6 linked regions of the Homo sapiens genome follow. Changing the gene in region 1 together with any one later gene gives a genetic interaction. Each region holds a gene or a part of one and is shown in the gene's direction. Other genes may lie near its edges. The genes, in order: RBBP8, MED23, MBTPS2, TIMELESS, UBA2 and RPL32.

The links.
Region 2: changes in RBBP8 (region 1) and MED23 together harm fitness more than expected from each alone (negative genetic interaction), as found in Homo sapiens cells (one large-scale study listed by BioGRID).
Region 3: changes in RBBP8 (region 1) and MBTPS2 together harm fitness less than expected from each alone (positive genetic interaction), as found in Homo sapiens cells (one large-scale study listed by BioGRID).
Region 4: changes in RBBP8 (region 1) and TIMELESS together harm fitness more than expected from each alone (negative genetic interaction), as found in Homo sapiens cells (one large-scale study listed by BioGRID).
Region 5: changes in RBBP8 (region 1) and UBA2 together harm fitness more than expected from each alone (negative genetic interaction), as found in Homo sapiens cells (one large-scale study listed by BioGRID).
Region 6: changes in RBBP8 (region 1) and RPL32 together harm fitness more than expected from each alone (negative genetic interaction), as found in Homo sapiens cells (one large-scale study listed by BioGRID).

Annotation. Positions count from the first base shown.
Region 1 is NC_000018.10:22,935,605-22,940,576, forward strand, and holds part of RBBP8 (DNA endonuclease RBBP8), read left to right. Parts: intron 1-1,149; 5' UTR 1,150-1,247; coding exon 1,248-1,356; intron 1,357-4,972. UniProt on the Homo sapiens protein: Endonuclease that cooperates with the MRE11-RAD50-NBN (MRN) complex in DNA-end resection, the first step of double-strand break (DSB) repair through the homologous recombination (HR) pathway.
Region 2 is NC_000006.12:131,585,556-131,591,038, reverse strand, and holds the end of MED23 (mediator of RNA polymerase II transcription subunit 23), read left to right. Parts: intron 1-596; coding exon 597-717; intron 718-1,442; coding exon 1,443-1,574; intron 1,575-3,192; coding exon 3,193-3,360; 3' UTR 3,361-4,101; coding exon of another isoform or gene 4,102-4,119; 3' UTR 4,120-4,307; downstream 4,308-5,483. UniProt on the Homo sapiens protein: Required for transcriptional activation subsequent to the assembly of the pre-initiation complex. Component of the Mediator complex, a coactivator involved in the regulated transcription of nearly all RNA polymerase II-dependent genes.
Region 3 is NC_000023.11:21,849,617-21,853,116, forward strand, and holds part of MBTPS2 (membrane-bound transcription factor site-2 protease), read left to right. Parts: intron 1-1,892; coding exon 1,893-1,996; intron 1,997-3,500. UniProt on the Homo sapiens protein: Zinc metalloprotease that mediates intramembrane proteolysis of proteins such as ATF6, ATF6B, SREBF1/SREBP1 and SREBF2/SREBP2.
Region 4 is NC_000012.12:56,416,955-56,421,926, reverse strand, and holds part of TIMELESS (protein timeless homolog), read left to right. Parts: coding exon 1-28; intron 29-117; coding exon 118-200; intron 201-433; coding exon 434-576; intron 577-792; coding exon 793-964; intron 965-1,045; coding exon 1,046-1,114; intron 1,115-1,239; coding exon 1,240-1,358; intron 1,359-3,567; coding exon 3,568-3,793; intron 3,794-3,918; coding exon 3,919-4,020; intron 4,021-4,140; coding exon 4,141-4,211; 3' UTR 4,212-4,972. UniProt on the Homo sapiens protein: Plays an important role in the control of DNA replication, maintenance of replication fork stability, maintenance of genome stability throughout normal DNA replication, DNA repair and in the regulation of the circadian clock.
Region 5 is NC_000019.10:34,468,396-34,472,553, forward strand, and holds the end of UBA2 (SUMO-activating enzyme subunit 2), read left to right. Parts: intron 1-644; coding exon 645-826; 3' UTR 827-2,856; downstream 2,857-4,158. UniProt on the Homo sapiens protein: The heterodimer acts as an E1 ligase for SUMO1, SUMO2, SUMO3, and probably SUMO4. It mediates ATP-dependent activation of SUMO proteins followed by formation of a thioester bond between a SUMO protein and a conserved active site cysteine residue on UBA2/SAE2.
Region 6 is NC_000003.12:12,838,002-12,843,624, reverse strand, and holds the start of RPL32 (large ribosomal subunit protein eL32), read left to right. Parts: upstream 1-2,059; 5' UTR 2,060-2,131; intron 2,132-3,174; exon of another isoform or gene 3,175-3,382; 5' UTR 3,383-3,387; coding exon 3,388-3,483; intron 3,484-4,094; coding exon 4,095-4,276; intron 4,277-5,623. UniProt on the Homo sapiens protein: Component of the large ribosomal subunit. The ribosome is a large ribonucleoprotein complex responsible for the synthesis of proteins in the cell.

The DNA of each region.
Region 1 (4,972 bases):
TGTCAGAGACCTCAGGAAATGGTTAGCAGGAAACAATCAGTTTGCTTTGGCTAAGGAGCCAGATGTGAGGTTTAGTAGACTTGCTGATCACTATTACTTTTTAAGTTGTAGCTAATTAATGGTTTCATTTTAAGAACACATATTAAAATATTTACTAATCCATTCAAACTTCTTAACCTGTTGGTTTCTTCAAGGACTATGTAATAAACTTAATGATTCACCTTTATTCTAAGAGAGGCATGAAGTAACATTACCCTAATTGTCTTATGACTCTAAGATGTTTCTGTATTCATAGATCTTTGCTGTGTTTAAATCTTACTGACTTCTCTTGTTTTTGGAAAGTTATACAGATCCTCATCTGTGTTAATACATCAGTCAACTGTCTCTTTTATAAAATATATATAGATATGTGTATATATGTGGATGCTTGTTAAGTCAAGACTAAGAATATTTTTCAGTTTTGGGCTCAGTATGTTTCACCAATTCAAAAGTTAAAAAAACCAATTTTTTTTTTTAATTGAGACAGGGTCTCTGTCGCTCAGGCTGGAATGCAGTGGCACGATCTCCGCTCACTGCAAATTCCGCCTCCCAGTTTCAGGCAATTCTCCTGCCTCAACCTCCTGAGTAGCTGGGGCCACAGGCACGCACTACCACACCTGGCAAATTTTTGTATTTTTAGTAAAGATGGGGTTTCACCATGGTGGCCAGGCTGATCTCAAACTCCTGGCCTCAAGTGATCTGCCCACCTCAGCCTCCCAAAGAGCTAGGATTACAGGCAAGAGCCATCTCCCCCAGCCAAAACAATACATTAGTCTATAGTGGTAAATTAATACTGACCATGAATGATAAAAACCCCTCAATATCTGAATCCTTTCTGTTTAATATAATTGAGATAATTTCTTCCTCTAAGAGAAATAAGAAAATTTGCCTGAAAATTTACCTCATATAGCCAAATAACTGAAATCAGAACTTTTCTCACCATTATCATCTTTCCTTATTCTTTCCTTCCCCTCCCAAATTCTAAAAATGATTGATTATAGGTAAATAAGGAAATGGTAAATGAGGATATCTGGGCTTGTGTTTCATCCTGATTTCAAAGTACATAAAGATAAATGCAAAGTTCATTTATGTTGCAATCTGTCATTTCAGGTATTTGACCTGTCCAAAGACGACTTGATACCTCTATAATGTAACAGAAAAGGTCAGAAAATATTAAGCAAGTAGAAGTGTGGAGCATATTAAGCAAGATGAACATCTCGGGAAGCAGCTGTGGAAGCCCTAACTCTGCAGATACATCTAGTGACTTTAAGGACCTTTGGACAAAACTAAAAGAATGTCATGATAGAGAAGTACAAGGTAAAATCTTTTCTTAAATACTTACAGCAGTATTTTGTTGAGACTGTAGTGGCTTTGTATACCTTTGTATGACAGTCCTGTTTATTATTTCTATTTCAGCTTTTAGGTTCCGGGGGTACATGTGCAGATTTGGTACATGGATAGATTGCATGTTGCTGGGGTTTGGTGTGCAAATGATTTCATCACCCAGGTAGTGAGCATGGTACCCCATAGGTAGTTTTTCAATCCCCACCCTCTTCCCACCCCCCTGACCCTCCACCCTCATGTAGGTCCCAGTACCTGTTGTTCCCCTCTTTGTGTCCATGTGTACTAAATGTGTAGCTCCCACTTATAAATGAGAACATGCAGTATTTCTGTTGTCTGCTCAGGGTAATGGCTTCATCTGCATCCATGTTGCTGCAAAGAAAATAATTTTGTTCTTTTTTATGGCTTCATTGTATTCCATGATGTATATATACTTTTTTTTAATTCAGTCCACTGTTGAATTTTGTACATTTAATGGCCATCTTTAAATTCAAAGATATCTTTTTTTTTTTTTTATTTTTTTTGAGACAGGGTCTCACTGTGTCACCAGGCTGGGGTGTAGTGGTGTGATCACAGCTCACTGCAGCTTCAACCTCCCATTCTCAAGTGAGCCTCCCTCCTGTAGTTGGGACCATAGGCACACGCTGCCATGCCTGGCTAATTTTTTATTTTTTGTAGAGTCAGGGTCTCACTATGTTGCCCAGGCTGGTCTTGAACTCCTGGCCTCAAGTGATCCTTCTGTCTCTGCCTCCCAAAGTGGTGGGATTACAGACGTGAGCCACTGCGCCTGGCCCAAAGATCTCATTATTTATTTATTTATTTATATATTCATGTATTTATTTATTTACTAATTAATTTTCAGAGAGGTTCTCACTCCGTTGCCCAGGCTGGAGTGCAGTGGTATGGTCACAGCTCACTGCAGCTTTAACCTCCCAGGCTCAGGTGTTCCTCCCACCTTAGCCTCCTGGGTACCTGGGACTACAGGTGTGCACCACCACGCCCAGCTAATTTTATGTATTTTTTGTAGAGACAGAGTTTTGCCTTTTTGCCCAGGCTGGTCTTGAACTTCTGGGCTCAAGCAGTCCACTGGCCTCAGCCTCCCAAAGTGCTAGGATTACAGGTGTCCGCTGCTGTGCCCAGCTGATCTTTTTTTCTTTTTCTTTTTGAGACAGGGTCTTGCTTTGTCACCCATGCTGGAGTGCAGTGGTGCAAACATGGCTCACTATAGTGTCAAACTCTCGGGCCCAAGTGATTGTCCCACCTCATCCTCCCAAGTAGTTGGGACTACAGGCGCACGCACCATGCCCAGCTAGTTTGTTTTTGTTTTTGTTTTTTTTAAACTTATCCTTCACCTTAGAACACCTAGCTAGTTTTTGTATTTTTTGTGGAGTCAGGGTTTCGCTATGTTGCCCAGGCTGGTCTCAAACTCCTGAGTTCAGGTGATCTCCCGCCTTGGCCTCCCAAACAGCTAGGATTACAGGCGTGAGCTGCGCCCAGCCAGATCTCATTTTTAGAGGACATTTACAATTGTAGTTTTTGTGATTCATTTTTATGGTCAAATTGGTGCTTTTTAACCACAGAACATAGTTTGTATACAACTTGCTGTTATTTACTTGTGGTAATATGTATGAGATAGTGGAAAACGTATACAATTTGTTGACTGAAGACCTGCATTTGAATTCTGATTTCATTTACCCACTTGCTCTGTGATCTTAGCCTAATTACCTAACCTCTAAATTTAATTTTCTTCTATAAAATTCTTTGCAGGATATAGACATAAAAATACTACATAAAGTCATTTGACAAACCCGTAGCACTGAAATACAAAAGTGAATGGCCACTTACCTTCAGACAGCCTGCAGTCTTAGTAGAGTCGTGTAAACAGATAATTACAGTACAGTGAAATAACAGTTAAAAGGTTTTTATGACGTGCAAGGAGTTTTAGAGGATTAAGCAATTGTGGTTGAGATGAGTAAATATTATTTGTGTTAAAAGATACACCATATGAAGCTAAGCTCAAGGTTTTAATATTAAATTTTAATATACTTTAATTCTGTAACTTTCCCTATGTCCCTATGTATGAGAAATGCTTCATATTACATTTGTTTCTTGATTACCTATTATAAGTTTAATATTGCAGTGCTTTATAGCTGTATCATTACACTGGAGTACTATTAAAACATAATCAACCTGAATCTAAAGTGTAGTATGTGAGTCTGTATTAGAACTTTCTTATGGTAGGCTGGGCACGGTGGCTCACGCCTGTAATCCCAGTGCTTTGGGAGGCCAAGGTGGGCGGATCACCTGAGGTCAGGAGTTCGAGACCAGCCTGACCAACATAGAGAAACCCTGTCTCTACTAAAAATACAAAATTAGCCGGGTGTGGTGGTGCGCACCTGTAATCCCCGCTACTCAGGAAGGCTGAGGCAGGAGAATCGCTTGAACCCAGGAGAATCGTTTGAACCCAGGAGGCGGAGGTTGCAGTGAGCTGAGATCACGCTATTGCACTCCACCCTGGGCAACAAGAGCGAAACTCCGTCTCAAAAAAAAAAAGAACTTTCCCATGGTAAGTTTAGTTTCTTGCAAAACTTCTGGTGACACCCTTATTAATTAATGAGTTTTGAAATATGAACAACCCCAAAAGTATTCTTTCAAGCCCCAGTGTTCATGGAGACACAAAGAAATGTTCAAGAAATGTTTTTTGGGCACTTACTATGTGCCAGACCTTGTGAATAAGAATAAATCCTATATAGTGCTAGCTTTAAGGGAATTTCTAGTCTAGAATTTTAATGCAGTATACTATGTTATTATCTGAAAACATGAAGGAAGAACTGAGGGTGTGTGTGGTTGCATGGGGAAGTGGGTTTGTGCATGGTTTATGTCAGACCAGGCTTGATAATTAAGTCTAATTAGCCAGGCAAGGAAGATGGTGGAAGGGGAGGGAATTTTCTGAGTAGAGAGAATAGCACATGCAAAAGTTTGCAGATAAGAGCTTGATTTTATTCAAGGAACTCTGGATAGTTAGGTTTAGTTCTAAGAGGAAATGGAATGGGAGATTGGAGTTTTGGGGGAGGTGGATAGGATATGATGCTAGAAATGTACATAGATCCAAATTATGTAAAATGGTATGTGCTATGCTGAAGAGATTGTCATCTTGCCTTGACTTTAGGACAGATTTCTCTATTTCTGCAAAAAATGTTGGGATTTTGGGATTTGGGATTTTGATAGGTAATGCATTGAATCTGTAGATTGCTTTATATAGTATTGACATCTTAACAATATTGTTTTGTAGTCCATGAACACGGGATACCTTTCTATTAGTGTCTTCTATATTTCTTTTTTTTTTTTTTTTTTGAGACAGAGTCTTGCTCTGTAGCCCAGGCTGGAGTGCAGTGGCGCGATCTCGGCTCACTGCAAGCTCCACCTCCTGGATTCATGCCATTCTCCTGCCTCAGCCTCCTGACTAGCTGGGACTACAAGCACCCGCCACCACGCCCGGCTAATTTTTTGTATTTTTAGTAGAGACGGGGTTTCACTGTGTTAGCCAGGATGGTGTCGATCTCCCGACCTCGTGATCCGCCCGCCTCAGCCT
Region 2 (5,483 bases), on another chromosome or scaffold:
ACTGCACTCCAGCCTGGTGACAGAGTGAGACTCCATCTGAAAAAAAAAAAAAAATTGTATTTCATTTTGTTCTAATCTCATTAACAGATGAGGTATATACTTCATTCATTAGAACAACTTGCGGCTGGGCGCGGTGACTCATGCCTGTAATCCCAGCAATTTGGGAGGCCGAGATGGGTGGATCACAAGGTCAGGAGATTGAGACCATCCTGGCCAACATGGTGAAACCCCGTCTCTACTAAAAATAAAAGAATTAGCCAGGCGTGGTGGTGTGCACCTGTAATCCCAGCTAGTCAGCAGGAGAATCACTTGAACCCAGGAGGCGGAGGTTGCAGTGAGCCAAGATCACGCCACTGCACTCCAGCCCAGGCAACAGTGTGAGACTCCGTCTCAAAAAAATAAATAAATAAAAATAATCAAGTGAAAGTAATAGCCAGTGAGAGATGTGAGATTAATTAGAAATATTATTGTTACCAAATTAAAAGGAACTTTAAAAAATTATATTTTATTGTAATACTTTGTATATACTGTATGAACAAAATTCAAACAATTTAAATAATTTCAAGTCACAGGAGATTTTTATCTTCAAATTTTAGGTTTCTTACTGAAGTACTTCTTCCTATAGTGAAGACCGAATTCCAGTTGCTTTATGTATACCATCTTGTTGGACCATTTTTACAAAGATTTCAGCAAGAGAGAACTCGTTGTATGATAGAGGTAAAATATAATCTGGGTTTCCTGTGACATGATTAAATTCTGAAGTATCTATTTAAGTTTCTTTACCAGTGTTATTGAAACTGCAGGTCACAACCATTAGTAGTGAAACTAGTTTAACAGGATCCAAGAGCAATTTTAGAGGACTTAGTTTGCCAGTAATGAATTTAGGGTGGGATGTATTGAATTGGAGATGCAGAGGAAACGCCCATCATGAAGGTTGAGAAGAGGTTAAGGATGGAGAAGTACATTTGAGATCTTACAGTGCAGAGGAGCTAATTAAAATCATGAGAATGGATGAAGTCAGTCACTTCTAACAAAATGTCGCAAACAAGGAAAGGACCCAGGAGTAGAACCTTAAAGCAAGAGCTACCAAATGGAACTAAGAAAGTATAATCCAAAGGATCCCTAGGAGTGGAGTTATCCCAGACATCGAGAGATGGTGTCTAGAAAGGGGATTGTTTATCTCTTGATTTTAAGAGAAATTACTTAACTATGAAGAGAAATTTTATTTAAGCCTTGTCAGGGGCATTTTGTAGCACTATAGATTCTTTTATAAATGCAAGCCATATCATATCTCATGTGCATAGAGGTGTATATGGTATATGACAGTTCTACAGCAAAGACAGTATCCCCCGGTGCTAGTGTTGTAATGGAGCCCAGCTGCATCATGCTGAATTACTGAATCACTTGATCACTTAAATAATTTTACATTATTTGTTAAATAGATTGGTGTGGCGTTTTATGACATGCTGCTGAATGTTGACCAGTGTAGCACCCATTTAAATTACATGGATCCCATCTGTGACTTCCTCTATCACATGAAGTATATGTTTACTGGTGACAGCGTGAAAGAGCAAGTAAGTTGAATTTGTTTAATTATTTTTAATGATGTTTAATTTAGAAAACTTGAACATATAGTAATAGACTTTTTTGGTTTGGGTGATTATTTTTATTTTGTCTAATTTTTTCTTTTAAGGAAAAAGGGTGGGTATGAGACCTTTTTAGGCATCAGAGGCATATTATTCTAGATGTAGTATTAAAGGAAATACATGTTATAATTTCTTGTACTTTTCCCCCTTGATATTTGCAACAGAAAATCTGAAAAAGACCTAGAGGGTTAATTAATAGTAATCTCATTAGGGAGAAACAGTGGGATATGGCTGCTGAAATATGAGCAGAGAGGTTGTTGTGTTATGAGTAAAGGAGGTCCTGCTTCTCCTGACACTCATGGTGACAGTAGACAAACCGCGGCATAACTAGAAGACTAAAGTCAGGATTCTAGACTAATCCTGACTAGAGACTAACTCATGAAAAGCATTTAGAGAATATGGGAATGCTTATCCTGAAGAAAAAAGTCCTAGGGAATTATTTATGACCTCAGCATTTTGGAGGGTTTTCATTTGGAATAGGTATTAGATTCGTTCTGTGTCACTTTAGAGGGTGTATGAATTCTGGTAAAGTTAAAGGGAGGCCACCCTGACTTAGCATATGAAGAGGAACTTCCTAATGGGGATGTCTGAAAGTAGAAAAAGACCTTGAATCATAACTGAGTTTCCTACGTGTAGGAAACAGAATCTGGGCCATTTTAAAGGAGTGGAGGTAGGACAGATAGGGAAAGTTAAGTCCATCCTCCTACCCCTCCCAGTACTTTAGGTTGAGATGCCAAGGAGGTTGACTCCTTTATGTCTCAGCAGCAGTGTCAAAGAGAGTTGACCTGTTCTCTCTCATGTAAGAAAGAGAGAAATTGTATCTGCTTTTGTTACAACACAGAACATGCAGAGAAACTGTAAAAGAAATTGTTTATTTGTTTGTTTTTTTAAAAAAAGTATTCTTTACATTTAGGCCTAAGAAACTTTAACACAAGGGAGTACAGAAAGGAAAAGGTCAAAGAGCATTTGAGTAAAGCTAAGAAAGCTGTGAAACGACTTGATGTGTTTGTCTCCTTAGTGTTTTTCAAAAGAGTAGATCTAATATTATTTAGTTAATTCCAAGTGTAAATCAAAACCAAAATAGTTTTATAGATAAATGTTGCAAACATGAGTTATTCAAAGAACTTTATAATTATGCTTCATGCTTCTGTAAAGATGGCATTTTAAAAGAATGATCAACTTGTTGGATGTATAAAATTTCCAGTGTAAACTCTGCTAGCTTTTGGTAGTGGGATGACTGGCTAGCTAGATGAGTGGATACGCCTTTGTAAGTATATGCATATATATGAATATACATATGGTACATGTACAGACATGCACATATAATATATAAGGGGTGTGTGTGAGGGAGAACGTATTGTTTCTCATGCAAGAAAGAAATCATTGTATCTGCTTTTCTTAAAACACAGAACATGTTAAGAAACTTCTCATCTACCCCACGACACTCCTTAGTTTATTGTCTCCGGATATGTGTAAATCCTGCTTTAAATGTGAGAAGTTGAAATTCTCTGATTAAAGTACGTTTTAATGTGTTTTTATTTCTTAGGTAGAGAAGATTATCTGTAACTTAAAACCAGCTTTAAAACTTCGTCTTCGATTCATCACACACATTAGCAAGATGGAGCCAGCTGCAGTGCCTCCACAAGCCATGAACAGTGGGTCTCCAGCACCTCAGTCTAATCAGGTGCCCGTGTCTTTACCAGTAACTCAGTGAAGCCAGACTGTACTGTGGAGAAAGTAGAAATATATCCGTCTTTGAGAGTGGACTCAAACCTTTTAAATCTGAATGCGATCACACTGTAGTGATATAGTAGAAGCAGTGATGATATTCAGATTGTTTTATTTTGATTCAAATGATGAATCTGTTGACACCTTATAACTCCCATCTCCCTATCTATATTTTTGTCTCTAAGAGATCAAGTAAGATACATGTTGTTCATATTCATAACAACTTATTAGAGCTATGTAGGAACATAGAGGTATCTGTGATCAAATGACTTGTCATTGGCACTTTCAGTCTTTCCTATTCTAGCCGTTGTTTTTGTTTGTATTTTTTATTATTAATGACATATTTAGTCTTCAGATATATTATTTTAAAGGCACCACACATGTAAAACAGTTATTACAAATATTTTATACATAAATCTCTTGGTAGATTTTCAGAATAATAGAGATTTATATCAAGAAAAGGAATCTAGATTTTGTTGCATTGTAGGAGCAAACAAGGCTTCATATTCTTTTTAAAATGACTTGAAATTTTATTATAAATTTCCATAGTTTCTATCAAGGTCAACTGGCAGTTTTATTACCTTTGCTATGGACTTGAACTTACTGTATAAAATTAGTTGGAAGCCATGTAAGAAAATAACATCTGAAAATTCTTGAACTTAAAATCATGCTTAAATGGTTGATTCTCCAATTTCTTTTTTTAAAAATAAGTTAATTGCTTTTGCAGGTTGACACTCTCACCTGACAGATGATGTAATTCTTCAATTTTTATAATCTTAAAATTTTTAAATTTTATATTTGTAAATACAGTACACATTTTATTTCTTGGATTTTGAGAGACATTGTTAATTTTGGGGGAATTGGCATTGCGAAAGACTTGAAAACTAATGAGTAAAGTCTGCTGAATGAATAAACCGTGTGATTGTTTCCCGACTCCATTGGAATGAGTGTCGGCTGTGTGCCAGGTGGTGTGCTGGCTGGGGTCAGTTGGAAATGGGGTACTCTGTGGTTCCTACACTACAGTTGGTGACTGACATTGGCCTAGGAATTAAGAGTTACAGATTCTTTTAAAAAGAACTAGTGAATTTAACCAACTGTATTTCAAATTCATATTTCTAAATACATTCCTCCTAGAACTTTATTTTCTTTGTAGCTCATGTAATTGCCATCACTAAATCATTACTGGCCATGCAAGTCCAGCTAAAAATTTATATAATGGTAAAAGTAATTTTTGCAGACTTACTCTTTTCTTTTTTTTTTTTTTTGAGACGGAGTCTCGTACTGTCACCCAGGCTGGAGTGCAGTGGCATACTCTGGGCTCACTACAAGCTCCACCTCCCGGGTTCACGCCATTCTCCTGCCTCAGCCTCCCTTGTAGCTGGGACTACAGGCGCCTGCCACCACGCCTGGCTAATTTTTTGTATTTTTAGTATTAGTAGAGACGGGGTTTCACTGTGTTAGCCAGGATGGTCTCAATCTCCTGACCTCGTGATCCCCCGCCTCAGCCTCCCAAAGTGCTGGGATTACAGGCGTGAGCCACTGTGCCCGGCCCCTGCAGACTCATTCTTAAAATTACCCAGAAAACATGCTAGAGATTATTTCAAGTGTTAATCTTAGCATAGCGTCAATGTATTCTTGCTGCCTTGAGGAATTTATTGCTTTTTGATCCTAGAATGAGGATAAAATTGTGACACTAGTATTATACAAACAATAGAGGAAATGAAAATCAATATAATCACTTTCTCAAGGACATAAACATTCTAATTAATTTATTACAAATTCAGTTTTCCCTCTCTAGCTTAAAAACATGGGAATATAATTTCCCTGGATAGGCTTTTAAATATGTTTTTAATCAGAGACTAATAGAAGACAAAAACTTTATTTGGGTTTAGAATACAGCAGAGGGGAAAAAAATGCCTTTATGTTTATCACATCCTAAAAGTTTTTCTTTTTGAAAATTAATAGTAAGTTTAGAGTGGCTCTGTCCAGTATGACTTTCTGCAATGATGGAAATGTTCTTTACCTGTGCTATTCAATACACTAGTTAGCAGCTACATTTATCTAGGAAGCATTTGAAATGTGGAACTGAATTTTTTAATTTTATTAAGC
Region 3 (3,500 bases), on another chromosome or scaffold:
ATCCTCAAAATTACCCTTTTGTGCAAATGTGGTTATTTCCATTTTAATGATGAGAAAATAGGAATGTTGGAGGAATAATGCCAACTTTCCCAAGGTCATTTAGCTAGTTAAGAGATAGAGACAGGACCGGCCGGGCGCAGTGGCTCACGCTTGTAATCCCAGCACTTTGGGAGGCGGAGGAAGGCGGATCACGAGGTCAGGAGATTGAGACCACGGTGAAACCCCGTCTCTACTAAAAATACAAAAAAAAAAAAAAAAAATTAGCCGGGCGTGGTGGCGGGCGCCTGTAGTCCCAGCTACTCGGAGAGGCTGAAGCAGGAGAACGGCGTGAACCCAGGAGGCGGAGCTTGCAGTGAGCCGAGATCGCGCCATTGCACTCCAGCCTGGGCGACAGAGCGAGACTCCGTCTCAAAAAAAAAAAAAAAAAAAAAAAGAGACAGGACCTCAAACCCATAACATGTCTCAAGAGCCCAATCCCTTAGCAAGTATGCTCATCTAAGAATTTCTTCCTCCAAAATATTTAGGTGTGTGTGTCCAAATATCTTTATCACATTATAAGAGCAGAAACTTAATTAAATGCCCAACAGTTTATTCCATAGAACACAGTGTAGCTATTAAAAATCATATTGAAATAGAAAATACTCATGGGAAGACGTCTGTGATACTGTTAAGTGAAGGGGCAAATTTCAAAACCAGATTTATAATAAAAGTATAGTTTTTAAAATTATGTGTACAGGAAAAGACTAGAAGGACATACATCAGAATGGTTCACAATGGTTTTATATGTGTATGTATGTTTGGGGAGCAGAATTTTAGGCTTCTGTTTTGCTTTGAATTTTCCAGTTTTCTTGCTTTAAACATATTTTTTATAATTAATATAATTATAAAAGAAAGCAGAAATTTCCTCCAAAAGGATACCTTTTAGTCCCAACTCCTGGACTGTAAGAAATAGATTCTCAGTATGTAAATGGTATTCCTGAGCCTGGTGTGTCCCACTTAGCCTAATTTATTGTCTCTCTTTAACAGATGACATAACTTGGGAGTGATTACTTATCTTACGAGAATATATCTTTGCTATCTAAAAAAATTTGCTGTGCAGCTCTTATCTTCCCTTGTGTATGCAATAATATATACCTGCACATTTTAGGAGCACATGATTGTAAGACAACTCCTGCTTCATATGTTTGTAACATGTCTGTAGGTTCCAAATGCCTTAATTTCGACATTAAATTTCAATTTTAATGTATTTGTGTATCTCTTCCACACTATTTTTCTGACCAACATAGTAGACCAACTAATGGAATAGAAGGGTATGGTGCTCCCACACTGATCGGGATCCCTATTAGACCAGCTTTCATTACCAACTCACCTATAACTTGAGGATATTAAAATGAAACTCGCTGATTAATAATATGGAGTTCCTATATTAATCAACACAAGTACTTGGAACCTTGCAATAACAATTCAGCGGAAGGTCTAGGAATTTTAACAAGGATTCCCAAATCAGGCATCCAGCCCTTGAGGTTGGGTCAGCTGCTGCCTGCTTCACTGTCATCCTGCATTCCTTGGCACTTTGCTGGGCTCCCTCATTCTTTCCCAAGGTGAAGACTCCAGGAAGCTAACATCTCAACTGTTTAACCTGGTGTTTCTCATTCTCTTTAGACTGGTGGTGTGCTTGTTCCAGAGAAACTGGCTAGTTCGAAAAATGAAATAGCGTTTTTGCTTTTTATTATGATAGAAATGGAGAAGTGAACCATTGTCATATTACTTTTAGTTTGCAGAACATTCAGCTTGAAGGTTTAATACAGAATGAACATCATGTATCTTAGTGCCCAAGTGGGACTCCCCTGCACCCCCACTGATAATTGCTGCCATATTGTGTCTATGAACAGGTTCCTGGTATAAATTTACCCGTCAATCAACTGACCTATTTCTTCACGGCAGTTCTCATTAGTGGTGTTGTACATGAAATTGGACATGGGATAGCAGCTATTAGGTAATGATATTTACCTTTTTCTTTGTACTACATGCAAAAAAAAGCTTTTCATTTAGGAGGATTTATTACTAAAATCTGCTATATTTGATACTTCACTATTTTTCTTTCTGCGGCTATTGCCTAGTGCATAGCCATCATTTGTTACTTTGAGGAAGCTTCTTTTTTTATAGAGAAGATTAATATGTTGATGAATATGCTCCATTAACCATGGGCATATCTGTAATCAGGGTCTTTCTATCCTTTGCCTTTTCCAGTGTGGTTATCCTCATGATGCCTCAAAGTTTTTTACCAAGTCCTAAAAGCCAATCTTTCTGTTCATCGAGTCAGAATGATAACCACTGTACTCAAAACCCACTCACCTTAGAACTTGATTTGACTTATCAGCTGAAATAATTTCCTGCTTCTGCTTATGTCCTCTGCTGGCTAGAGCAAGAAAACTGAAAGCACTGGGTTTAACAAATATCATAGTCTATCTAGAAACCCAAGTGGAAGATAAGAAGACACCTGGGACTAGCTTTGAGTATCACTCCCTGTTCTTGGTCTTGGCTTCCCAAATGTATCATTGTAACTATACCTAAGCATTTAGAAGCCTATAACACATATAAAATCATGATGGGGAGAGGGCCACGTCATAACTCCCCTGCTACCTCCACTGATAATTACGGCCATAATTAGCAAGCATGCTAATAGGAATGTGTTTTATCCTTTCGGTGTGTGGACCAGAGAAAAGGTTAAAAACCTCTGTTTTGGCAGAGAAGATGTAATCACTTCTTATTACTTTCCAGTTGTTTATGAACAAGAGTCTATTTATTGGCAATAAATCCTCATCTTGACAGAGCATATACTGTTACACAGATGTGCACAATAGTGGCTTAAAGTGGTGGCTGCTGGGTTTTTTTTTTCTTTTAAAATCGCCTTCAGTGCTTTGCAGCCTTTAGGATTTTACCTATAGACACATCGTTAATAACAGCTTAACAATTTACAGTATGTTTGTAAAAATAACTTGGGTAATTTTTTTTTAAGTCCCAACTGCCAAGAAAAAAAATGAACTGTACGGTTGTCTTATATATTTAGTATTAAGCAACAGCACAATATATTTAGGTGATACTTTTTTCTAGGGGGGCTGTTTGGTTTTATGAGACTTAAATATTAATTTTTGGAAAATGAACTGATAAAAAATGGTTCTCTTTTTTTTTTTAATATGGAGATCAAAACCTGCTGAAAAAACTGGTTCTCTTAAGGACAATCTGAGCATTATGCATGTTTAAACATACTTATTTAACGTTAGCTTGATAGGAATACACCTAGATAAATCTCCACCATTATTTATAATTGCTAAGACAAATACAAGTTATTAGGTAATTTACTTGAATTATATCGTCTCCTATGTTCTTCTCTGAAAATAGTTCAGAGTAAACCATAAAAATGTTTTTCATTTAGTTTCTCATAAAAGCCATTTCTGTATATATGTGACTAACTTCAATTATTTGCTCAACATATTGGT
Region 4 (4,972 bases), on another chromosome or scaffold:
TGGCTGACAGTGTCAAGGACTTCCAAAGGTAGAGAGGCACATGCTCTGGAGGCTATTGGGATGGGGACTCGTGATCACTTCCTGGGCTTCCTCTTCCACTGACACCTTCCTAATCAGGAAAGGAACCCATATTGTACTGTGGACGGGGGATCAGGAGTTGGAGCTGCAGCGGCTTTTTGAGGAATTCCGGGACTCAGATGGTGAGTAAGCTGGAAACTCAGGGGACCTTTGAGATGAAAGCCAAGCTATCCATTTATTTTGGGGCTGCCTTTTATTCCCAAGGAAAGATTCTCCCATCCCTTCTGTTCACTTACTATATTTGTAAGTGTCATTTTTGGATGAATTGAGGTACCCTCTTTCCAGAGACCTCTGATTTATTTTACTCATCTCTTTCCCTGTTACCCTTGGGTATTCACATGCTTGCTTTTTATAGATGTCCTGGGTCATATCATGAAGAATATCACAGCCAAACGCTCACGGGCCCGAATAGTGGATAAACTCTTGGCTCTGGGGCTGGTGGCTGAGCGGCGGGAGCTGTACAAGAAACGGCAGAAAAAGTTGGCATCCTCCATCTTGGTAACAATCTGACCCTAGCTCTGCTGGCATGGGCTCACTTCCCTTGAAGTGGTCCTTAGGAGCAGTCCACCTGGATTCTTCCTGCCTGAGGCTGTTCTGACCAGGTCCTTCCGAGAGAGCAGGCGCGGGGGGGTGCGGTGGTCAGGAACGAGGAGACTCCACTAAGTTCCTTGTGTTGCCTTCATTTTCATTCCCCCAACCCCCAATGAATTTTAGCCAAATGGAGCGGAGTCCCTGAAAGATTTTTGCCAGGAAGATCTGGAAGAAGAGGAAAACCTGCCTGAGGAAGACAGCGAAGAGGAAGAAGAAGGGGGCTCAGAAGCAGAACAAGTCCAGGGTAGCTTAGTCCTTTCAAATGAAAACCTTGGTCAAAGCCTGCATCAGGAAGGTGAGGACTTTGGCTGGGAGAGATGTCTCAGGTGGAGGGCTTGGGAGTAGGGTCAAATGTAAGTTTCCCTCATTTCCTTAGGCTTTTCTATCCCGCTCCTATGGCTCCAGAACTGCCTGATCCGAGCAGCTGATGATCGGGAAGAGGATGGTGAGTGGACAGGTGACACTTTTAGGAGAAGAGCCCTGGAGGCTATTGGAGACCTACCTGGTCATGGGATGGAGAACCAGTTCTTCCCTTATATCTTCACCATATGACTATTGACCCTGTCTTAGGCTGCTCCCAGGCCGTTCCATTGGTGCCACTCACAGAGGAAAATGAGGAAGCCATGGAAAACGAACAGTTTCAGCAGCTGTTGCGCAAGCTAGGGGTTCGGCCCCCTGCCTCTGGGCAGGTAAATATGTCAGTTACAGTGTCAACCAAGGCGTGTTAGTCCTATTTCCAAATACATCTCCTCCTCCTCCTCACTGTCATGGTGGTCCTCCTTATCCTTATCGTCATCTTGGTCCTTCTCATTGTCTTGTCATCTCTGACCAAGATTCCTGCAGCAGCCATTCTGCTAGTCTTCTTTTCCTCTCTCTAATCTCCCCTTCCCCTAGATCCATCTTCCAGACTGCCTCCAGATTTATCTTTTTAAAATATAGTCTTGATTACAGTTGTCCCTTAGTGTCTGAGAGGGGATTGGTTCCAGGACCCCCCTGCCCACAGATACCAAAATCTATAGATGCTGAAGTCCCTTTTTGTAGTATTTGTAAATAACCTAGGTACAACCTGTATACTTCGTCATTTCTAGATTACATATAATACCTATACAATGTAAATGTTAGGTAAATAATTGTTATACTGTATTGTAAATATATATATATACATTTTATTTATATATATATATATACACACACACACACACACACACATATATATATATATATATATTTTTTTTTTTTTTTTTTTTTTTTGAGACAGAGTCTCACTCCATCACCCAGGCTGGAGTGCAGTGGCTCAGTCTCAGCTCACTGTCGCCTCAACCTCCCAGACTCAGGTGATCCTCCCACCTCAGCCTCCTGAGTAGCTGGGACTACAGGCCTATATTACCACTCCCAGCTAATTTTTTGTATTTTTTGTAGAGATGGGGTTATGCCATGTTGCCCAGGCTGTGTATTATTGTTTAATGTTGTATTGTTATTTTTTTTTAATATTGTCGATCTACAGTGGTTTGAATCCACAGACTCAGAACTTGTGGATATGGAGGGTCAAGTCCTCTGTCCAGAGCCATTGATGGTTCCTTACTGCTTGCAGGACAGAATCCACAAACTCCAAATGGCATCCCCATCCTTGGCCAACCTTTGCAGCCTCACAGCCACACCACTCACACACCGACTTTACATCATAGTCACCCTGGTAGGCTTTTTCATGCCTCCAAATGGTTAATCATGCCAGTCCCTCTATTGGAAGGCTGCAACCGTGCACACAGGGTGACACACACACACACACACACACACACACTCCATCTGTCTTACTGATGGACCTCTACCCAGTCTTCAAGAGTCTGCTCAATTGTCACCTTGTCAGAGAAGCAGTCCTTGTCATTCTTTCAACCCCTGAAGTAAAAATAATCACTTTTGCAGCTGTGATTTGTTCATGCCCCTGATGCAGCCTTAATCCTGTGGAATCTGCTGGGTATGGTGGCTCACGCCTGTAACCCCAGCACTTTGGGAGGCTGAGGCAGGCGGATCACCTGAGGTCAGGAGTTCAAGACCAGCCTGGCCAACATGGCAAAACCCTGTCTCTACTAAAAATACAAAAATTAGCCCGGTGTGGTGGTAGGCACCTGTAGTCCCACCTACTTGGGAGGCTGAGGCAGGAGAATTGCTTGAACCCAGGAGGGTGAGCCTTTATTGCTTTGCCACGGCACTCTAGCCTGGGCAACAGAGTGAGACTCTGCCTCAAAAAGAAAAAAAAAAAAATCCTGTGATACTACAGTACATTTGTTCTTTTTCCCATTGGATTGTGAGTTATTTGATAGCAAGGATCATACCTGATTCACCTTTACATCCCCAGGATTTATTTATTTATTTATTTATTCAATTGACAACTATAGCCAGGTGTAGTGGCTCATGCCTGTAATCCCAGCACTTTGGGAGGCTGAGGTGGGAGGATCGTTTGAGACTGGCCTGGGCAACACAGCAAGACCCTGTCTCTACAAAAAATTTTAAGTAGTTGGGCATCATGGTGGCATGCACCCCTGTGGTCCTGGCTACTTGAGAGGCTGAGGCAGGAGGATAGCTTGATCCCAAGAGATCGAGACTACAGTGGACCATGATTGTGCCACTGCACTTCAGCCTGAGTGACAGAGGCAGACCCCTTCTCATTTAAAAAAAAAAAAAAAAAAAGAACAACCAAAAAAACCTATAACTGGGAACCTCCTAATGTAGCAGGCACTGTGCTAGGCACTGGGTATATATTAGATAGTAAGTATTATAATAAATAGAGTTCACAACCCTTGTGGATCTTCACCAATATTGGGTCATATATATTCAATGAATATCATACTCTGGGAAACAAAAAGCTGGTCCTTTCCCTTTTCAACTTTTTGGCCCCTGTAGGAAACCTTCTGGCGAATTCCAGCCAAGCTGAGTCCTACCCAGCTCCGGAGGGCAGCAGCTTCTTTGAGTCAACCAGAGGAGGAACAGAAGCTGCAGCCAGAGCTGCAGCCTAAAGTCCCTGGAGAGCAAGGCTCTGATGAGGAGCACTGTAAAGAGCACCGAGCACAAGCCCTGAGGGCCCTCTTGCTAGCCCACAAGAAGAAAGCGGGCCTGGCATCCCCAGAGGGTAATAGTGCGACAGCCATCTTCTGAGTATTAACGTGTCAGCCATGTTGGTCTAGAGGGCAGGAAAGGTGTTCTGAGAATATGAGGACCGAGTTCCTAATTTTGTGTCATTTATGGTCATTGCAGAGGAAGACGCTGTTGGTAAAGAGCCGCTGAAGGCAGCACCCAAGAAACGACAATTGCTGGACAGCGACGAGGAACAGGAAGAAGATGAGGGCAGGAACAGAGGTAGGGAATTTGATGGGACCTTCTTTTTCTTCTCTAATCCTGAAGACAAACTCTACCACGTCCTTACCCCTTAACATATTTAGATATTCTCTCTCTCTCTCACCCCCATCGTTCCCACAGCACCAGAGTTGGGAGCTCCAGGAATCCAAAAGAAGAAACGATACCAGATTGAGGATGATGAGGATGACTGAAGAGCTAAGAAGCCTAGGGGTAGAGATAGACACGTTTTTAGATGGTGCATTCAAGTCAGAGTTGGAAGGGTCATACAGGACCCAGAAGCTCCTCTTACTGGACAGAGCAGTAGAATCCCAGGCTCTTTCACGGATTTAGGCTGAGAAACTTCAGCAGCAGTATTGGACTTCTCTGCTGTCAGTCTTTGTTTCTCCCAGTTTTTATCGGTATGCCCCAGCAGCTCTCTGGAGATTTAGTTCTCTTCTTCTAGGAACCATTTCTTTTGGTTATTGGAGCTCCTTAGCAAATAAGAGGAGTGAGTGAAATAGAGAAAGCACCCCGGACCCCTTTTATTGGTCTGTTCCTTTGGCTTTCTCTTGGAGGTGGGTCGCAGCACCAGATGGGGAGCTTTATGACATGACAGGCGGGAGTTTTGTACCACTTTTAGAAGATACCAGATGCCTCTGTCCTCATTTTGTTTCCTATGATCATCCTCTAGATACCAGATAGAGGCCCATTCCTGCATTTGAGATAGGGTTGGAATATAGTACTCTAGATGATGAATGTGTTTGCTTTGTGTTTGGTATTAAACATGTAAGATTAGAAGTTCTCATCTCAGTCTGACTTGGCGATATGTCTAAGTTCCCCAGCCCTTCCCCTGCTGTGCTCTTGAAAGAAGAACTTAACAATTTTAGGGTAAAAAGAGACCAACAGACCGGCACAGTGGCTCAAACCTGTTGTCCTAGCACTTTGGGAGGCTGAGGCGGGCGGATCACCTGAG
Region 5 (4,158 bases), on another chromosome or scaffold:
ATTTGAAATGTACATTTATTGATTCTCTACTGTGGGTAGGTTTCCAAGGTTACAGCCATGAGTAAGATAGGTATTCTGCCTTTGATTTTGTTGGACGAGGAGATAAAACCACCTTTAGTATCAGTTCTGCATTGGGGATGGTTCCTGGCTTCATCCTCTGCTACTATGTAAGCTTGGGAAGTCATTCACTGAGTTTCCTTTCCTGGAAAGCAGATACTCATGTGATCTTCTTTATAGGGTTGTGATGATTAAATGAGTTGTCATATGCACAGTGCTCAGAACAGTTCCTGGCACATTGTAAGTGCTGTATTGTTGTTGCTATTGTTACCACTACTACCATTATTAGAATATGTACCCTCTGCTTTTCTATTGGAGAATGTGGAGGTAGAATCAAGGATGTGTAATGAGTACTTTGAGTTACATAATGCTTGTCACAATTTTTTGTTTTGATTAGAAAATAAATAGGTTCTTATATAAAACATTTAAAACAGTATGGAAATACGTAATGTGTAAAGTGAAAATGCAGCCATTCTTAAGTCTGGTGTGTATTAGAAGAGTCAGCTTTCAATTATAGAAAATACAGGTGAGCACAGGTAACTCCCACGCTTTTACCCATTTTCTTTTTCCCTTTTTTCTGAAATAAGCTCAAGAGCAAGATGACGTTCTCATAGTTGATTCAGATGAAGAAGATTCTTCAAATAATGCCGACGTCAGTGAAGAAGAGAGAAGCCGCAAGAGGAAATTAGATGAGAAAGAGAATCTCAGTGCAAAGAGGTCACGTATAGAACAGAAGGAAGAGCTTGATGATGTCATAGCATTAGATTGAACAGAAATGCCTCTAAACAGAACCCTCTTACTATTTAGTTTATCTGGGCAGAACCAGATTGTTATGTCCTTTGTTCCAAAGGGAAAAAATTGACAGCAGTGACTTGAAAATGATTCTGCTCCCTTTGAAAGCATTCATTTTGCTAGAACTGTTAGACACATTGCAGTATGCTGTATTGAAAGTAGGAATATAGTTTTAAAAACCCTTTGAACAAAGTGTGTGCATAACCAGTCATGAGATAAAACAACACAATGCATGTTGCCTTTTTAATGTAAATACCCGTAGGTATCATTAATAGTTTCAAAATATTGTGGTTTAGTAAAGTTGATACCTGGTTATAAATATTATGCCTTTATTTTTGGCTAGAAGAAGAATTATTTTTAGCCTAGATCTAACCATTTTCATACTCTTAACTGATTGAAACAGATTCAAAGAAGTATCGAGTGCTATGCATTGAAACTTGTTTTTAAATGTTAGATGGCACTATGTATATTAATGTAAAACAATGTTAATTTACTCAAGTTTTCAGTTTGTACCGCCTGGTATGTCTGTGTAAGAAGCCAATTTTTGTGTATTGTTACAGTTTCAGGTTATTTATATTCGATGTTTTGTAAAACTCAAATAACGACTATACTTATGGACCAAATAAATGGCATCTGCATTCTTGTTACACATGCCTGCACAGTTCCTGTTTCTGCTGCCTTATATCTACTGCAGGAATGTCAAATTCTTTTCATTAAAAAAAGAACTCGGTCGGGCACGGTGGCTCATGCCTGTAATCCCAGCACTTTGGAAGGCTGAGGCAGGTGGATCACCTGAGGTCAGTAGTTCAAGACCAACCTGGTCAACATGGTGAAACCCCATCTCTACTAAAAAAAAAAAAAAAAATTAGCCGGGCCTGGTGGCAGGCACCTGTAATTCCAGCTACTCAGGAGGCTAAGGCAGCAGAATTGCTTGAACCCGGGAGGCAGAGGTTGCAGTGAGCCAAGATTGTGCTATTGCTACTCCAGCCAGGGCGATGAGTGAAACTCCATCTCAAAAAAGGTTCAGAAGATCTCCACTGTTTGCCAAAGACGAGTACTTTCTTTTCTTTATTCTTGGAGACTTCACATGTAGGAAGAGTACTTTCTAAAATAAAGCTCTTCCTGCGTGTGGTGGTGGTGCACATCTGTGTTCCAGCTACTCAGGAGGCTGAGGCAGGAGGATGGCTGGAGCCCAGAAGTTCAAGGCCAGCCTGGGTAACATAGCAAGACCCTGTCTCTAAAAAATAAGTAAATAAAATAAAGCTTTTAATGGCAGTGGGTTTTTTGTTCGTTTTTGAGATGAAGCCTCACACTGTCATCTGGCCTGGAGTGCAGTGGCGCGATCCTGGCTCACTGCAGCCTCCGCCTTCCAGGTGCAAGCGATTCTCCTGTCTCAGCCTCCCCTGTAGCTGGGATTACAGGCGCCCTCCACCACGCTCAGCTAATTTTTTGTATTTTTAGTAGAGATGGGGTTTCACTATGTTGGCCAGGCTGGTCTGGAACTCCTGACCTCGTGATCCACCTGCCTCAGCCTCCCAAAGTGCTGGGATTACAGGCGTGAGCCACTGCGCCTGGCCTAATGGCAGTGTTTTTAAAATTTGGATTGTCAGCAGTTGGCCTTTGTTGAGAAAATGTGTGACTTTGCCCAAGCCCAGTAACTTGGAGCCTTGAATTTGAGATGCTGGAAAGGGAGTCCTTCCTCCTTTCTGCAGTGTTTGTCTGGGTTGTCCCCTAGTTTACCAAAGTCCATTTTGAATGTACCATCCCCAGCCCAACTCCAGCCTACAGATAGTGCCAGACCGCCAGTAGGTGGAGTAGCACTGTCTTCCTGGTCCCGGACCTCAGAGGGCTTTGCCTGTTAGGGTACTCTTATCACTCAGAGATGGGCCTTGAGTTTTCAGAGAACAGAAAGCCATTAAGCTGTTTCCCCTATTGTATTCATGTGCCCTTTGTGTTTCTGGCAATAATTTATTTTATATTTCAACTAAATTTTAAATTTCTAATTCATGTATTGTTCCTTGTGTAATTTGTACTGTACCATTCAGCTTATTAACCATTACTCCTTGTTTTCCACCATTTGTAAATTCAGCATGTAATCAGAGCTTTCAGAAAAACCATGTAGAAGACTGGGTGTGGTGGCTCACACCCATAAGCCTTGCACTTTGAGAGGCTGAGGCAGGAGGATCGTTTGAGCCCAGGAGTTTGAGACCAGCCTGAGCAACATGGCAAAACCCCATCTCTACAAAAAATACAAAAAGTAGCTGAGCCTGGTGGCACTTGCCTGTAGCCCCAGCTATTCGGGAGGCTGATGGAGGAGGATCGCTTGAGCCTGGGAGGCGGGGTGTGCAGTGAGCCAAGATTGTACCACTGTACTTCAGACTGGGTGACAGAATGAGACCCTGTCTCTGAAAAGAAAAAAAAAGTCATGTTGACTAAGACTCAGCCTTCTGGAGCCCCAGAGTGGAGTGACTTTCACCTGTGAGCTTCATCTGCCTTTAGGTTTTTAGAAGGTGTTTAATTTTCCTCCAGAAAATAATTTGAAACTTAACTATGTAATATAAAATGAAATATCTTAGGATGCCGTCTCACTCTTCAAACTTTTTATTCTGAAAAGCTCTCTAGAAATTTGATTTTGAAATTCTGTCCATTCTTACACATCATCCTGCCTGCCTTTATTTTTGCAGTGGTGCCGTCATAGGTCACTGCAGCCTTGACCTCCTGGCTTCAAGCAATTCTCCCTCCCCAGCCTCCTAAGTCCCTGGAACTACAGGAGCTCACCACCATGCCCAGCTAATTTTTAAAACTTCTTTTGTGGAGACGGTCTCACGTTGCCCAGGCTTGTCTCCAACTCCTGGCCTCAAGCGATCCTCCCACCTTGGCCTTGCCAAGTACTGGGATTATAGGCCCTGAGCCGCGTGCCCTGTCCTCACCCTGCTTTGTAGACACAGTTAACAATGTGTTCCCGATATTTTGTGTATGTTCTTTTGTTCTTTCCTATTTGAATGTATAGTGCATGATGATAAGTGCCAGTTAGGTCTGCGGAGTTGTTTCTAATTTGGCAGACCAGTGTTTTTCATCTTTGCATTAACTATTACTACCTTTTTCAGCAGGTTTGTTAGGAAGGCAGGTCTGACTACTAGTTGCAGGGATCCTGTACAACTAGACAGTGTACCAAAGCAAATCCAAGCTTTCCCTAGGTGCCTAGAGGGTGGAGACACTTCAGATCTTGTGTTGTATTCATGGTTTTTCCATGTAAATTGTCTCACCAGCTGGGAGCTGGGAGTAGGGCTTGCAAAGGGAGTTTCCTCA
Region 6 (5,623 bases), on another chromosome or scaffold:
TTTTTTAAAAAAAATTTATGTCCCTAGCATGTACAGTAAACACTAAAGTGATTCCTAAAGAATTCTTCCCTTTTATCACTTCCAGTAGGCCTCTGTGAAACCAAATCTACCTCCGCTTACAAGAAAGATGCTGGGCTGGCCTTCTCTCAAAGTCTTTCCAAACTTTTCTTGGCATTGACTTAGACACCCTAGGAATCTAACTTGAGAAAATGTTTTCATTAAAAAAAATCTCAGGAAGTAAAACCTCCTGAATGATTACTGAGTTGACATAAATCTTATGTGTATATTCTTATCAGAAAAAAAGTATCTTCATTTTGTGGGACACCAATTCATGTATTATTATTATTTTGAGACAAAGTTTCGCTCTTGTTGCCCAGGCTGGAGTGCAATGGCGCGATCTCCACTTACTGCAACCTCCACCTCCTGAGTTCAAGTGATTCTCGTGCCTCAGCCTCCCTAGTAGCTGGAACTACAGGCATGTGCCACCACACCCAGCTAATTTTTTGTAACTTTAGTAGAGATGGGGTTTCACCATGTTGGCCAGGATGGACTCGAACTCCTGACCACAGGTGATCTGCCCACCTCAGCTTCCCAAAGTGCTGGGATTACAGGCATGAGCCACCGCGCCCAGTCGCTGGGTCTTACAGTAACTTTATGTTTAACATTTTGAGGAAATGCTATTCTTTTCCAAAGTGACTGCACCATTTCATATTTGCACTAGCACTGTACGGACATTCCCATTTCTCTGTCCTAGTGAGTGTGAAATGGTATCTCACTGCAGTTCCAGTTTGTATTTCCCTGATGGCTAATGATGTGGATCATTTCATGTGTTCATTGGCCACAGAGAAATGTCTATTTGGATTCTTTACCCATTTTTCAATTGGGTTATTTGTCTTTATAGGTTTGTTGTTGTTGAGACAGAGTCTTGCTCTGTCACTCAGGCTGGAGTGCAGTGGCATTATCACAGCTAACTGCAGTCTAGAACTGCTGGGCTCACGTGATCATCCCAGCTCAGCCTCTCGAGTAACTGGGACTACAGGCATGCGCCACCAGCCCCAGCTAATTATTTTATTTTTTGTAGAGACAGGGTCTTACTATGTTGCCTAGGCCGGTCTTGAACTCCTGGGCTCAAGCAAATCTCCCACCTCAGACTCCCAAAGTATTGGAATTATAGGTGTGAACCATAGTGCTCAGCCAATTTGCACAATAATCTTAAATACAAAAGCTAAGCAAAACAAATCAAGAGCATCTTTAAAAACTAGGCAGTCTGGGAGGCAGGGGCTGCCGTGAGCCGTGAGATGGCACCTTTGCATTCCAGCCTAGGTGACAGAGGGAGGCCCTGTCTAAAAAAAACCAAAAACCAAAAAACAAAACAAAACAAAAAACATCTAGGCAGTAGCTCGTGCCCGTAATCCCAGCTACTCAGGAGGCTGAGGCGAGAGAATCGTTTGAGCCCAGGAGTTCAAGACCAGCCTGGGCAACAGAGTGAGACCCCATTTCTAAAAAATGAACAAAGAAAAACTAGGCAGTTTCGCCCAGTGGTTAGAAGCGTGGAGTTTGGAGTCAAGTCTCCAAATTTCATCTTCCACATATGCAAAATGGAGACAATAATAGGGGTACGTTATAGAATTGTGGTAGGCATAGTGAACTCCATCGCATGTTAGCTGTTTTCGTTACTATTTACTGTCTAAATTCGGTGATGAAATTATTAGGAAGTCTCTGTCTTGTTCTCTTCTGACCACTAAGAGGCGCACTTCGGAGTAGAAGAAACGCGGGCGGAAATAGCCCAAAAGCGGATTGGCTTCGACTTCTGGCGGAAGTAAATTCCTCCCTCCACCAGGTCTTATTAGCTCAGAAAGAATTCCAAATTTCTACGTAGTCCCAAGGATAGGTAGAATACATTTCTCAGTCCTATTCCTAGTTATTATTGTCTATTAAAACATGTATACTCAGAATTTTTGCGGCATTATTTTTTGACGTGTCTTTATTTTATTTAAAAGAGCCGGAGCCGGAAGTGCTTGCCTTTTTCCCTGCTAGGACCCAGGGGTTACGACCCATCAGCCCTTGCGCGCCACCGTCCCTTCTCTCTTCCTCGGCGCTGCCTACGGAGGTGGCAGCCATCTCCTTCTCGGTAAGTGTTAATCCGTGGCAATCCGCATTCCTGCGGGATTCATCTGGCCCCGTCGCCCAGTGGTGCGGAGGCCTCCCCTTCAGCGCGGTAGTGTCTGTGGGTATTGTTATTGTCAGCTTACTGGAGCGTGTACAGGAACAGAACGAAGCCGCCGAGTTGATAGGGCTTTGCGTCCCAGAGCCTCCTGCCCTCCGCCTGTATTCAGAGCTGCGGGCTGCTTGTTTGTTCCTTGGCGGTGGAGGGTGCTAGTTGAGGCCAGACTTCGGGGTCTCCTGGGGGCCGTGGGACGACCAGGGGTGGCCCAGCTTGACAGCTTTCAGCTGGGATCTGTGGATCCCAGCGCTCACCAATGTCGGCCCACGTGTATTCGTTCATGCCATGGCCGGCTTCTTCCGCTGCAGTCTCTGGCCCGAGGGCTGCTGCTGCGGGACCGCCAAGGAAAGACGAGCTGTAGGTCGGCTGGTCCAGCTGCAGGCAGAAATTCTGGTAGTATCTCTGGGAATATGAAGATGCAACTGCCCCCACCTTGCCTTCGAGGATATCATGGGCCAGAAGGCAGAGTCGTTTTGAATACGTGGTTCATTGAGTACCCACTCTGGGCCAGTTGATGGCTGCGAAGAGAGCAGAAGGGGTGCTGCTGTAGGAAATCAATGGCTCGGAAGACCACACTGAGGAAGGTGTGAGTTGATACTGGAAGATCTCCAGGTTTGAGGCATCTTCAGAGGTATATGGTGGTTTTGTGTGTGTTGAGGGTGTGGTAGCGCAGCAGCTCCCTAGGGAATTAGAAGGTTTTATTGAACATTTACCCTGTGACAGGCACTGCAGGCATTCAGCGCGCAGTGTCATCTTCATTTTACAGGTGAGGAAAAGACTCAGGTTCAAGTAGATGGTCAAGGCCAGTACTACCGGAAGGACCATCTGGGGGTTCGGACACTGGTGGGGTGGGATTTGCTGCCCCTTGCAAATTGAGAGTGTCTTGGGGTCAGTTTTGATTTGCTCAGCTGTTGGCATTCTTTGGGCTCTGAGTGGGTGAGGTGACCCTTGACCTCCTGGGATCGCATCTGGAGAGTGCCTAGTATTCTGCCAGCTTCGGAAAGGGAGGGAAAGCAAGCCTGGCAGAGGCACCCATTCCATTCCCAGCTTGCTCCGTAGCTGGCGATTGGAAGACACTCTGCGACAGTGTTCAGTCCCTGGGCAGGAAAGCCTCCTTCCAGGATTCTTCCTCACCTGGGGCCGCTTCTTCCCCAAAAGGCATCATGGCCGCCCTCAGACCCCTTGTGAAGCCCAAGATCGTCAAAAAGAGAACCAAGAAGTTCATCCGGCACCAGTCAGACCGATATGTCAAAATTAAGGTATGTGGTCCTGGGATGGAAATGGGTGTGGGGTGAAGAAAAGAGTTTCCAACAGTTTCTGACATCACCTAGTCAGGATTATCTTTGACCGATGAACTGGCTTGTGGAAGAGCTTTCTGTAGAAATACAGGTCTCCCCCAGTGTGCCCTAGTGCTGGTACTTATGTCTCTTGATGTGTGAAGCGAAACTTTAATGAAAAGGGACATTTGGCCGTTTTGATGTGTTCAGAGGGCTTTGCATTTGTGTCCTGTATTTTGGGTTGCCTTGTGACAGCAGGATCCCTATTTTATAGACAAGAAAACTCAGGTGCTGAGAGCAGTGTCTGCAGCTGTGCTTGCCATCTCAGTATCTACACAGTCCCCTCGCATCCCATTGGTGCCTCCTCCATTGCTTGGGAGTGGCAATGGTGGGGGTGCCTTCATCCCTAGTGGCTAAAGCCACGAGCTCCTGGTTTTTCCCACCAAAAAAGTAAGGAAATAGTGAAGTCCTGTTACCAAAGGCAACTACTGTGTGGCATACTTCCTTTTCATTTGGTCCTTTTTTTCCCTCCCCAAAAGGAAGAGTTCGCACTCTGCACAGACGCTAACCCACCTGTGTATTATTTCCTTCAGCGTAACTGGCGGAAACCCAGAGGCATTGACAACAGGGTTCGTAGAAGATTCAAGGGCCAGATCTTGATGCCCAACATTGGTTATGGAAGCAACAAAAAAACAAAGCACATGCTGCCCAGTGGCTTCCGGAAGTTCCTGGTCCACAACGTCAAGGAGCTGGAAGTGCTGCTGATGTGCAACAAGTGAGTTGGGTCCCACCTCTAGTTTTCAGTGATCAGAAGTTTGCATCTGTGTGAGCACTTCTGGCAGGAACTCTACAAACTCTTGGGATGCATTTTGGCGGGGGGTGTTGTACATTCTCTGAGGGAATCAGAAGTTGTTCCTTGCAGGATTTTAGAGAATGCTTGTTGGGGAATTCAAGGTGTTTCCTTTGCTGAAGGAGGTGACTTGGTCTTCTAAGTGTAGAGACCCAAGACCAGGAAAAGACTGCTTTGTGAACACTGCAATAATAGCCACTTTCCACTACTACAATATCCTTTGGCTGTTGTTTCCAAAATGTTGCTTTCTTTATGAAGGTGTCAAGCAAAAGAGTTGAACTCTGAAATATTCGAAGAGATTTATTCTGAGCCAAATATGAGTTGACCATGGCCCGTGACACAGCCCTTGGGAGACCCTAAGAATATGTGTCCAAGGTGGGCGGGGAGCAGCTTGGTTTTACATATTTTAGGGAGACATGAGACATCAATCAAATACACATAAGGCATACATTGGTTTGGTCCAGAAAGGCGGCACTTCGAGGTTTTGGATAGATTTTCTGTTTCTCGTCGAGAATTGGTTATCACTAGAAAGGAATGTCTTGGCTACAGTAAGAGGTTGTGGAAACCAAGAGTGCCCTATTCAAGGAGGGAGTGCATTCAGATGGTTGCTGGGGGCCTTTGAATTTTATTTTTGGCTTACAAGCGGGAGAAGGTCAAACATGGACCTCAGACCTTAAGGGGCTCTTAAGTCTGTGCTGTGGTAAGGGGTATCTTCAGGGGCAGGAGGGCTCTGGAAAGTTTGCATTAGATGGAGAACAGGAGGAAACTTGGCAGGCAGAGAGTGCTTACACAAAGGTGTAGAGGTGAAAGCACATGGAGGGTTTGCAGGGCATTGGTTCCAGGTGGGTTTTATTGGTTTTTGTTTTTTAAGATGAAGTCTTGCTCTCTTGCCGGGGCTGGAGTGCAGTGGCATGACTTCGGCTCACTGCAACCTCCACCGCCCAGTTTCAGGCGTTTCTTCTGCCTCACCCTCCCAAGAGCTGGGATTACAGGCGTGCACCACCATTCCTGGCTAATTTTTGTATTTTTAGTACAGATGAGGTTTCACCATGTTGGCCAGGCTGGTTTTGAACTCATGACCTTAAGCGGTCTGCCTGCCTTAGCCTCCCAAAATGCTGGGATTACAGGCATGAGCTACTATGCCTGGCCTGGTTTGATTTTAGAGATAGACAGGCTCTGTGTTGCCCTGGCTACAGTGCAGTGGCTGTTCACAGCTGTGATCATGGCACACCGCAGCCCCAAACTCAAGGTGGGCTCAAGCTGTCTTCCTAT